Regions from separate parts of the Homo sapiens genome. Here regions 2 and 3 are each reported to be linked to region 1. Evidence: microRNA targets listed by miRTarBase, many of them from high-throughput screens and not tested one by one. Region 1 holds a microRNA gene; each other region holds the end of a gene's coding sequence.

The links. The annotated mature microRNA hsa-miR-6727-3p reads UCCUGCCACCUCCUCCGCAG and lies in region 1 at 2,447-2,466, opposite strand. An mRNA with a match to its seed (bases 2 to 7 or 8) in the 3' UTR can be bound and repressed. Matches are read on the target gene's strand: a 7mer-m8 pairs with bases 2 to 8, a 7mer-A1 pairs with bases 2 to 7 and ends in A, and an 8mer does both.
Region 2: the mRNA of FCAR is a reported target of hsa-miR-6727-3p. The part of its 3' UTR that is shown has no 7-base or 8-base seed match.
Region 3: miRTarBase lists CEP76 as a target of hsa-miR-6727-3p. The part of its 3' UTR that is shown has no 7-base or 8-base seed match.

The regions. Positions count from the first base shown.
Region 1 is chr1:1,310,056-1,314,444 of GRCh38, forward strand. It overlaps MIR6727 (microRNA 6727), which reads right to left and starts at 2,511; the gene lies at 2,447-2,511. PUSL1 (pseudouridine synthase like 1) reads left to right here. Exons shown (of 8, transcript NM_153339.3): 6 at 579-633; 7 at 854-1,016; 8 at 1,275-1,622. The coding sequence ends at 1,324. INTS11 (integrator complex subunit 11) reads right to left here. Exons shown (of 17, transcript NM_017871.6): 8 at 4,246-4,310; 9 at 3,677-3,866; 10 at 3,454-3,537; 11 at 2,980-3,069; 12 at 2,732-2,894; 13 at 2,538-2,645; 14 at 2,385-2,446; 15 at 2,171-2,313; 16 at 1,963-2,092; 17 at 1,545-1,869. The coding sequence ends at 1,804.
Region 2 is chr19:54,889,678-54,892,677 of GRCh38, reverse strand. FCAR (Fc alpha receptor) reads right to left here. Exons shown (of 5, transcript NM_002000.4): 5 at 1,258-3,000. The coding sequence ends at 2,815. Among named protein-coding and RNA genes, the nearest start is that of NCR1, 15 kb to the left of the region's middle. RefSeq lists an enhancer at 1-39.
Region 3 is chr18:12,670,658-12,673,657 of GRCh38, forward strand. CEP76 (centrosomal protein 76) reads right to left here. Exons shown (of 12, transcript NM_024899.4): 12 at 1,968-2,846. The coding sequence ends at 2,708. It also overlaps a transcript of PSMG2 not described here. Among named protein-coding and RNA genes, the nearest start is that of SPIRE1, 14 kb to the left of the region's middle.

The DNA of each region.
Region 1 (4,389 bases):
GAAGGCTGCTTGTCTCTGAAAAACCCCTGCCATGCCTGATGGAAGAATGTTGGCAGCTACTGGAAAGGTCTCACTGGTGCCAGTGGTTCTGGTGGGGTGGTTTCTGCTGCCCCCAGCACTGTCCCGAGGGCCACCCACCAGGTGGCAGCTTCTGACCAGAACCTCCCCTATTGGGGTGAGCCCTGAAGGGGGGAAGAACTTCTGCCAGCCCCAGACTTCTGTGGCAGAGCAGCAGGTACAGGACTGGGGGTCTCTGGCACCCGCACCAGCCACGTTCCCAGACCCTGCACCAGGACCCTAGGTGAGGGCCCAGGGCAAGCCCCTCTGGGATGGCCAGGCTACCTGCCCAGCCTCCAGGGTCCTGCTGCCTCCTTGCCCAAGCATTGTTTCTCTGGTTTTAAGCCCCTCCAATGGGCCTCACTGGGGGCAGGAGATCAGCCAGGGCCCCTGGTGGCCAAGCTAGTGGGAACCAGGCTCGTCTTTAGGCCCACCCTGTCACTCTCCCGTCCAAGGCCACATAGTAGGCTGAGGATGGCAAACACTGCCCCACAGACACCTACAGGTACGTATTTTTCCAGGAAGCTGCGGTTCTGGAACCTGGAGTTTGAGAGCCAGTCTTTCCTGTATAGACAGGTAGGCTCTGTTCTGGGGCCGTCCCCAGGGGGTGGGGCTGAGGGTGGGCAGGCCCCTGTGCAGTCTTGGCTCTGGGTCGTGGGCGGCTCTGGGTCACAGGTACGGAGGATGACGGCTGTGCTGGTGGGTCACGGGCGGCTCTGGGTCACAGGTACGGAGGATGACGGCTGTGCTGGTGGGTCACGGGCGGCTCTGGGTCACAGGTGGCTCTGGGTCACAGGTACGGAGGATGACGGCTGTGCTGGTGGCCGTGGGGCTGGGGGCTTTGGCACCTGCCCAGGTGAAGACGATTCTGGAGAGCCAAGATCCCCTGGGCAAGCACCAGACACGTGTAGCCCCAGCCCACGGCTTATTCCTCAAGTCAGTGCTGTACGGGAACCTCGGTAAGAAAAACAGGCACGAGAAGCTCCTGTCATGTGCCCAGTGACTACTGTGGCCGAGGCATGGGGTGGGGGGCCAGGGGCCACTGACGGCAGCAACTGGGGGTGAAGCAGCCCCCCGCCCAGGGCTGCAGTCCCTCAGGCCAGCCCGTAGCCCGTCCTGGGCTGGCCCACTCCCTGGTCATGGGAGTGGTCTCAGCGGTGGGGAGGGTGCTGGGCCGGTCTTGCCCCAGGCTGACGCAGGGTCTGGTCCGTCCACAGGTGCTGCCTCCTGCACCCTGCAGGGGCCACAGTTCGGGAGCCACGGATGACCCTGGACACTCAAGCCAAAGTTAGGCCACACCAGGCCCAACCCTGTGCTGGTCAAGCCAGGGCAGTCACAGCTGCTTGGGGCCCACAGCACTGCTGCCTGGTCTCCACAGTAGCCTCCCTGCCCGGGTCCCAGCACCCTGGATGCCCGTCTCTGTCCCAGGCGGGATGGGGCACAGTGCAGGACACAGCCATGTACACCAAGAAGAGAGTACCAAGTAGTCTTTTGTTCAGCTTTTACTGGAAACTGCTGTCTAGGACCACCTGCCCTAACCAGGAATAAAGGCAAGACAGCCTGGAGACCAGTTTGTTTCTTCAGCTGCAAACAGCTGCCTGGGCAGGCAGGTGACACAAGGCCTCTGTCCCCAGGGATGGGACCTGCAGGGTCTGTTCACCCAGGGCACCCACAGTCCTGAAGTGCAGGCCCAGGGTCTGTCCAGCTGGGAGAGGGCAGAGGTGGCGGCTGGGTGAGTTGCCGGCCTCAGCTGGGGGCCTGGGGGAGGCCCTTCTTCAGCAGAGATGTGAGGAAGCTCCCCAGCTCCTCGTCCTAGGGCAGAGGCAAAAGCATTGTGGGTGGTGCAGGACAGGGAGGAATGTTGATACCTGTGTTGACCGCGGTGGGGTGGGGGTCACCCCTTACCTGGTAGGTCCAGGAGACCAGCAGCACCTTGGTGCCTGGGTCCTCAGAAGGGGCGGCGGCCTGGAGGAGGACGGACTCCACAGTCACAGAGCCGTCTGGGAGGTGCTGCACACAGTGGTCCTTCAGGACGCTGTGGGGAGGCTCGGTGAGACCCTGCCTGGCCTCCAGGGCCCAAGGGAGTGGGGGGGGGGCGGGGCCGGGCGCCCACCTCTTGAGGTGGCTGTAGACGCGCAATGCCGTCTCCTGCTCCTTGCGTGTGTCATGCAGGTGCACGCGGCAGGTGAAGCGCAGCTGGTGCTCAGCCAGACCCAGCTCTTTGAGGGCTTGCTCTGAGGACACCAGCCGGAAGTTCTGTGGGGCAGGGACAGGTCAGTGAGCGCAGCAGCGGCCCTCCCCCCTCCAGAGACCGTCCTGGCACTCACGCTGTCCTTCATGATCAGGGTGCCGTGCAGGAGCCGAGGCTTCTTGGCCTCAGGGAGCAGCCCTGCGGAGGAGGTGGCAGGAGCCATCAATGTGAGGGCCGCTCCCAGCCGCCTGCCCCGAGCACCCTGCCCTGCCCTGCCCAGCCCGCATACCCTGCGCCATCTCCCGCTTCAGCAGCCCCAGCGAGATGCCTACGGGGATGCTGGGGCTTGTGGGCAGCGTCACCGTCTCGCCATTGGCCGGCATGTAGCAGTTGACCCCTGGACCCCGGGGGAAGAGAGAGCCTCAGCCCAGGCTGCCCGTGCTGACCCGAGGTGGGCCCCACGCCGCCCGCCCGGCTGCCTACGGAGCTCCTGCTCGATCTTCTGCTTCAGGAACTCCATCTTCTTGGCCTCGCCATGCACCAGCAGCACGCTCTCCGGCTCTGCCTGGCCCACCAGCTGCATGATGCCCTTGGCGTCCGCGTGTGCGCTGAATGACATGTACTCCACCTGCATCTTGACCTCCAGCTACAGAGGCCACGGGGCGTGGACAGTGGTTACCACCAGGAGGTGCCCCTCGGCCCTGCCAGCCCAGTGCGGGGTCGAGACTCACCACCTGCCGCCCCTCCATCTCGAGCTTCCGCTGCCCGCTGAGGATCTTGTGGCCGACGGTGCCCTGCACGCAGTAGCCGGGCATGATGACCTGGGGGCAGGCACAGAGCTCACAGCCAGGGAACTCCAGCCTTGGCACCTCAAGGCCTTGCCCGGGATGCCCCCGCCTGAACCCCTGGAAGCTGTTTCCACCTGCCAGCGGCGCCCGACCAAGCCTAGCTGCAGACTCCAAAGGGCTCAGGTTTTGGCACAAGACTGTCCAGGGCTGGGCTGGGGCTGTTCTGCCCGAGGTGGACAAGCTGTGTCACAGAGACTGAGCAGCTCCAGGCGGACATCGCCCCCGTTCCCCAGCAGCAGCAGCCACGTCCCTTGGCCAGCACGAGGCCAAGCCAGTGAGAGCTCAGAGACAGCATGGGTGGAAGGACAACCCGTCGGCCTCCAGCTTCCAGATTCCCACACCTCACCATGCCCTCACCATGTTCTTTTCGTTTCCGGCCCATTTCCGGAAGATCTGCAGGGACTGCCCAGCGTGCAGCATTCCTGGCGTGGCAAACACAACCTACAGGACACACAGGGCCAGGTGGGGGGTCAGGGCAGCAGATGCCCCCACCCCCACTGCAGGCCCAAGCCCAGACACCTGCGGAAGACAGGAGACCGACGGGTGTGGATGTGCTGGCCGGCCCTGCCGCGGGCCTCACCATCGGTCCTGGGTTGTCAGCAAAAGCCCGGTCGAAGGCCTTGATGTGCTTGAACTCAAACATGTTCCTCTGCACGAAAGTCTTGCGGATCTTCTGGTTGGTCCAGGGGATGAACAGCTTGTAGTAGTGGTTGGCCTTCTCGGTCAGCCCCGTGGAGAAGTAGATGGGCACCTTCAGGTTCATGCGCTCCCTGGGGACCACCGGCCCAGTCAGCACAGTGGCCACAGGGGAGAATGCTGCAGGGCAGGACTCGGCCGGGTCACCCCCAACACCCGTGTCTGCACAGCCCACGCACGGGCCAGGTTGAGTCCAGTCGCGACCACTTGTCCCATTAAGCCCTGCAGCAGCCGGGCTCAGCGGAGAACCAGGAACCCCTACAAGAGCCGCACACGGTGGCGCTGACGGGATGTCACAGGCTTCCTGGGGTCACACAGCACACGAGCGGCCCCCCAGGACAGCAGCAAGCAGGGCCAAGATGCCACCGCTACGCTGGACAGGGCTGCCCACCAACTGGACTGTGTTCAGGCCGGGCCAGGGGCTCCTTAAAGAGCCGTCCTGGCGGCACCTACCAGAAGGTCTCCAGGAGGATGCAGAGCTCCTGGGCGCGGCCCAGCGCGAACACAGGTATCAGCACCTGAGGGGGACACAAGGCAGGAGCCCTGGGCACATGGCCCCTCGACACAGCAGGCAGCGTCCAGTGAGGGCACGGCCAG
Region 2 (3,000 bases), not on the chromosome of region 1:
CTCCTGCCTCAGCCTCCTCAGTAGCTGGTAATGCAGGTGCGTGCCACCACACCTGGCTAATTTTTGTATTTTTAGTAGAGACGGGGTTTTGCCATGTTGGCCAGGCTGGTCTCGAACTCCTGGCCTCGTGATCTGCCTGCCTTAGCCTCCCAAAGTGCTGGGATTTCAGGTGTGAGCCACTGCGCTCAGCCTGGGAAATGTATACTTCAGAGATTGTTGGATTTTCAGGGCCTTCTGTGGCTTGACGTCATCTGGAAAAGTGTGGTCATTGGGAAGATATTACTTTGATTGGTTGTCACTCATGCTTGGGTGTTTACTGAAATGAGTCTGATTGGATGACTTTTAGAAGCAAGGAGCTGCCTGACTGATGGTAACATAACAATATAAAACGTATGGAGTGGCCGGGCTTTGTGGCTCACTCCTGTAATCCCAGCACTTTGAGAGGCTGAGGCAGGCAGATCACCCTGAGGTCAGAAGTTTGTGACCAGCTTGGCCAACATGGCGAAACCCGTCTGTACTAAAAATACAAAAATTATCTGCGTGTGGTGGCAGGTGCCTATAATCCCAGCTACTGGGGAGGCTGAGGCAGGAGAATTGCTGAACCCGGGAAAGAGAGGTTGCAGGGAGCCGAGGTCACGTCACTGCTCCCCAGCCTGGGTGACAGAGCAAGACCCCGTCTCAAAAAAAAAAAAAAAAAAAAAGAGCATCTTCACAGAGATGAGTTGTCATTGATGATGGGTTAAAAATCAGTTTTGGTGGCTACTTGTTACTGTGGTTACAGGACAATAAAATACTTTTCTGAAGAGCTCAGGAACTTTATTATTCTGAAAACGCTTTTTCCAAACAAGGTCCTTCTGTCAGCAAAACGACTTATATGAGTTTAATCTTATCCATCTCTGGGAATCTAGCCCCATTGTGTCTCTGTAATCCAAGTCCTGGACCTGACGTAAAGTCCCTCAACCCCCTTCATCCAAAATTGTGGCACTTTCCCTTTATTTATTTATTTATTATTTATTTGTTTGTTTACTTTTGAGACGGAGTCTCGCTCTGTGGCCCAGGCTGGAGTGTAGTGGCGTGATCTCAGCTCATTGCAAGCCCCGCCTCCCAGGTTCACGCCATTCTCCTGCCTCAGCCCCTGGAGTAGCTGGGACTACAGGCACCTGCCACCACACCTGGTGAAAAAAATCAGAACAAACTGAAGATATGGGCCAGAACTTGTATAAAGTGTGAAAAGCAGTCAATAAAGAAAGTTAGAAATACTTTGCATTTTTTTTTTAATCACAGGACCTGAGTTAAGCCAAGAATACAGTAGAAATTTTATCAAGTAGAGATAAGCTCTCAGTAAAGGATAAAAGTGGGCCTAAGTCCCTTCAGTTTCACTGGAAGTAGGACCCTTACATTTTATAATTATATTTTCATACATAAGCTACTGGACAATGAAGTAAATAGCAATCAGTGAAAGAGCCACATATGACCAACTTAGATTTCCTTGAGTAAAGTCTGTCAAGGGTAAAGCTGTGAAAGTTTATAAGAAAAAAGAATGGGGAATTATTTGGAAGACCATTTGAGTTTTGTACACAAGAATTTAATGTTTGCACACTTGATAATATATGTGAATATCATCAAAACTAAGTGAAAAAATAAATTAATGAGGTGAAACACATGCCTGTATTCCTTGTATGAAAATCCGGTAGAAATAGGGTTTGTGAAATAAATAGGGTAATCCTCCTGTAGGATTATGACTTTCACTCTTATCAATTTGTAGATGAACACAGCAGGAGGCTGAGGTAGGAGGATTGCTTGAGACCAGGAGTTCAAGACCAGCTTAGGCAACATAGGGAGAGCCTCACTTCAACAAAAAAAAATAAAGGAGGGGGGTTATTGAATATATTTGGCATGCTTACCAACCATTTATATTTGGGGAAGACACATTTAAAAATATAAAAAGAAGGCTGGGCGCAGTGGCTCACATCTGTAATCCCAGCACTTTGGGAGGCCGAGGCGGGCAGATCACGAGGTCAGAAGTTTGAGACCAGCTTGGCCAATGTGATGAAACCCCGTCTCTACTAAAAATACTGTAAAAGTAGCTGGGCGTGATGGTGGGAGCCTGCAATCCCAGCTACTTGGGAGGCCGAGGCAGGAGAATCACTTGAACCCAGGAGGCAGAGGTTGCAGTGAGCCGAGATCGTGCCACTGCACTCCAGCCTGGGCAACAGAGTGAGACTCTGTCTCAAATAAAAATAAAAATAAAAATAAATAAAATAAATAAAAAAAGAGAAGAACAATGAAGGAAGAAATTAAACAGGATATAAAAAATCAGAAGACAGATAAGATGGAAAACCATAACTTATGTGCAGAAAGGTGGGTGCAAATCGATCAGTCCTGCATAAGAAAACACCATTTGATTGGTTTGAACATGCATCTGGCCAGGCGTGGTGGCTCATGCCTATAATCTCAGCACTTTGGGAGGCCAAGGTGGGTGGATCACCTGAGGTCAGGAGTTCGAGACCAGCCTGGCCAACACAGTGAAACCCCATCTCTACTAAAAATACAAAAATTAGCTGGGTGCAGTGGTATGTGCCTGTAATTCCAGCTACTTGGGAGGCTGAGGCACAAGAATCACTTGAACCCAAGAGGTTCAATGAGCCGAGATTGCTCCACTGCACTCCAGCCTGGGTGACAGAGCCAGACTCTGTCTCAAAAAAAAAAAAAAGTAGATTCAAGCTTCTTAGTGAGCTTTTCTCTCTTGTGTCCTTCAAGTAGCTTTGTCGGACTCCACAGTCCTGGCTCCTCTCTGCCTTCACCTCCAGGTGTTTACTTGCAGACACTTGGTGTTCGTGCAAAGGTCAATCCTGGCTGACACATCTGTTGGCTCCAGCTCGGTTCAGCCACATCTGCCGAGGCTTCCTTGTTCAGTGCCGTATGGCTGTGCCAATTTTCAACCAGTATGGCCAAGAGAGCCACGAGGACCAGTCCTGCCACGGCCATGCGGATCAAGTT
Region 3 (3,000 bases), not on the chromosome of region 1:
TAACTTTTTTAAAAAGTTTTTTTTTTCTTTGAGATAGGGTCTTGCTCTGTCACCCAGGCTGGAGTGCAGTGGCACAATCTTTTGGGCTCAAGTGATTCACCCACCTCAGCCTCCCAAGCAGCTGGGACCACAGGTGTGCACGATCACGCCCTGCTAATTTTTTACATTTTTTGTAGAGAGGGGTTCTTGCTATGTTGCCCAGGCTGGTCTTAAACTCCTGAACCCAAGAGATTCTCCTGCCTCAGCCTCCCAGAGTACTGGAATTATAGGTGTGAACCACTATGCTTTAAAAAAAGCTTCAATTATTATTTTGCTAATTTTCTACAGTCATGTCAGTCTCACAAGAAACATCTGATTACCATTTTTGATGAAAATTGTAGAAGAGGGATCATAATATTTCAGACTTTTTAAACAAATTGAATATTTATTATACATAAAAATAAAACAAAGTAGATTTATTCTTTTAGAGAAATAGGGGGGGGTCTCTCTATGCTCCCAGGCTGGTCTTGAGCTACTTCTTGGGCCATCCTCTGGCCGCAGCCTCCAAAAGTGCTGGGATTATAGGTGTGAGCCATCACACCTGGCCCAAAAAGTAAATTTTAAGACACTTTTAGATTTTAATTTTCGAAAAACGAAATCATTTTATTTGTAGGGGTGAATTAAAGTGATTAAAAGAATTAATAACTTGGATAGCCAACTGGTATAGAGTTACTTTCTTAAGACCAATGGATAAAGCAACTAAATTAAGAACTACACATATCAGAGTGAACAAAGATTCTTTGAAAAAATAAAAAACTTAAAAAAAATGAAAAGAACTATGCACAGAAGTGCTAAATGGGCAATCAAACCCCTCATATCATGTATTATGCAGCTTCTTGCAAAAAGTTGAATTGCTACTCTTTTTAAAGTTTACTTTTGTTCACTTAACACTTTTTTTAATATATAAAATTTTAAAATAAGTTGAGGAATCAGGTTTCACACTTTCTTTTTTTTTTTTTTTTTTTTTTTTGAGACAGAGTCTTGCTCTGTCACCCAGGCTGGAATGCAGTGACGCGATCTTAGCTCACCACCTCTGTGGACTCAAGCGATCCTTCCGCCTCAGACTCCCGAGTAGCTTGGATTATGGGTGTGTGACACCATGCCTAGCTACTTAAAATTAACTTATAAAAAACATTTTTTTTGAGATGGAGTATTGCTCTGTTGCCCACGCTGGAGTACAGTGGCATGATCTTGGCTCATCACAACCTCCGCCTCCCAGGTTCAAGCGATTCTCCTGCCTCAGTCTCCTGAGTAGCTAGACTACAGGCACATGCCACCATGCCCAGCTAATTTTTGTATCTTTAGTAGAGACAGGGTTTCACTGTGTTGGCCAGGCTGGTCTTGAACCCCTGACCTCGTGATCCACCCACATCAGCCTCCCAAAGTGCTGGCATTACAGGTGTGAGCCACCATGCCTGGCCCTTTTTTTTTTTTCTGAGATGCAGTCTCGCTCTGCCTCCCATGCTGGAGTGCAGTGGCGCGATCTCACCTCACTGCAACCTCTGCCTCCCAGGTTCAAGCGATTCTCCTGCCTCAGCCTCCTGAGTAGCTGGGATTACAGGTGTGAGCCACCGCACCCGGCCTAATTTTCGTATTTTTAGTAGAGACAGGGTTTCACCATGTTGCCCAGGCTGGTCACGAACTCCTGACCTCAAGTGATCCACCCACCTCGGCCTCCCAAAGTGCTGGGATTACAGGCATAAACCACTACGCCGAGCCTTACAAAATTTTTAAAACGTGCTCAATTTTAAAACAAAAATCAGTATGGAATCACTCACATATGCTTGTTTTCAGTGGTCTCACACAATCAATCTCTTATTTAGATTAGTCACATATATGCTGATTTTTTTATCACAATGAAAGAAAAAAGGGTTTCAGAAGATAGAATCCATGAAGAGGCTAATAATGAATCCTCTGACCACAGAAAATCAGTGATCGACTGCAAGATCACAATTTATCAGTATCATAACAAAGAGGTATAATAAAGTTTTTCTAAAATACCCAATTCATTTTTACAACAAATCACAGTGATAAATATTTCTAAATGATTCATGTACTTTCATATGAGGTTATTAATATTTATGCTTTTCTGGTATTAGTTTTTTCCTACTCTTGCTTCAAGGTCCAACCATAAATTTCTGGACAGTCTCAAATATCCCAAGGACCACGAATAAACCACAAAAGTGGTAATTCATTAACATTTATTTTCACCAATGCAATAAATAAATCTGTCATGAGGTTAATTTCTCCTAATCTGTATAAAATAATTCCATTAACCTGTGAAAAGTAATGATCATACTGATTTGTCTAGGGCTCAAACCCTTAGACAAACATCTCTTTGATTACCTGTTTGTGTAAAGAAAACTGAATGCATTTTATATTAATATTTAAACTACTGATAACTGTAAACAAAGTAGCATTTATTAAAATAGAATATACACTTAATTTATACTAAATTCCAGGGAGATTTATACAAGTTTTTCAGCCTTAATTTTTAAAGGAATGCATGATTTTTTTTAAACATTACCAGTCAAGTATATACAAAATTGAAGTATGCCATTCAAGCCAGATTGTGATTTTAAAATAACAAACCTCTAAATAGCTAAGTAATGTACAATGTGTAAAATTCCAATTAAACACAGGTATAAATCTTATATAAATATTGGCCCTATAATACCGAGCGATATTTACAAGCAAACATGATCCAAACAGCACATGCAGATTCAGGGTAAGTAAATACTCGGACACGAACTGCCAGTCGCACTTGGTCTCCACGGCAACAGATTATTTCTTCACAGAAAGGAGATCTATTTAAGAAAAAAAAAATTATTCAATTAAGAAGTGACCATACACTTTAATTCCTTATTTGCAAGTAAATCAGTATTTAAAATAATTTTTTCAGGCTAGGCGTGGTGGCTCATGCCTGTAATCCCAGCACTTTGGGAGGCCGAGACAGGTGGA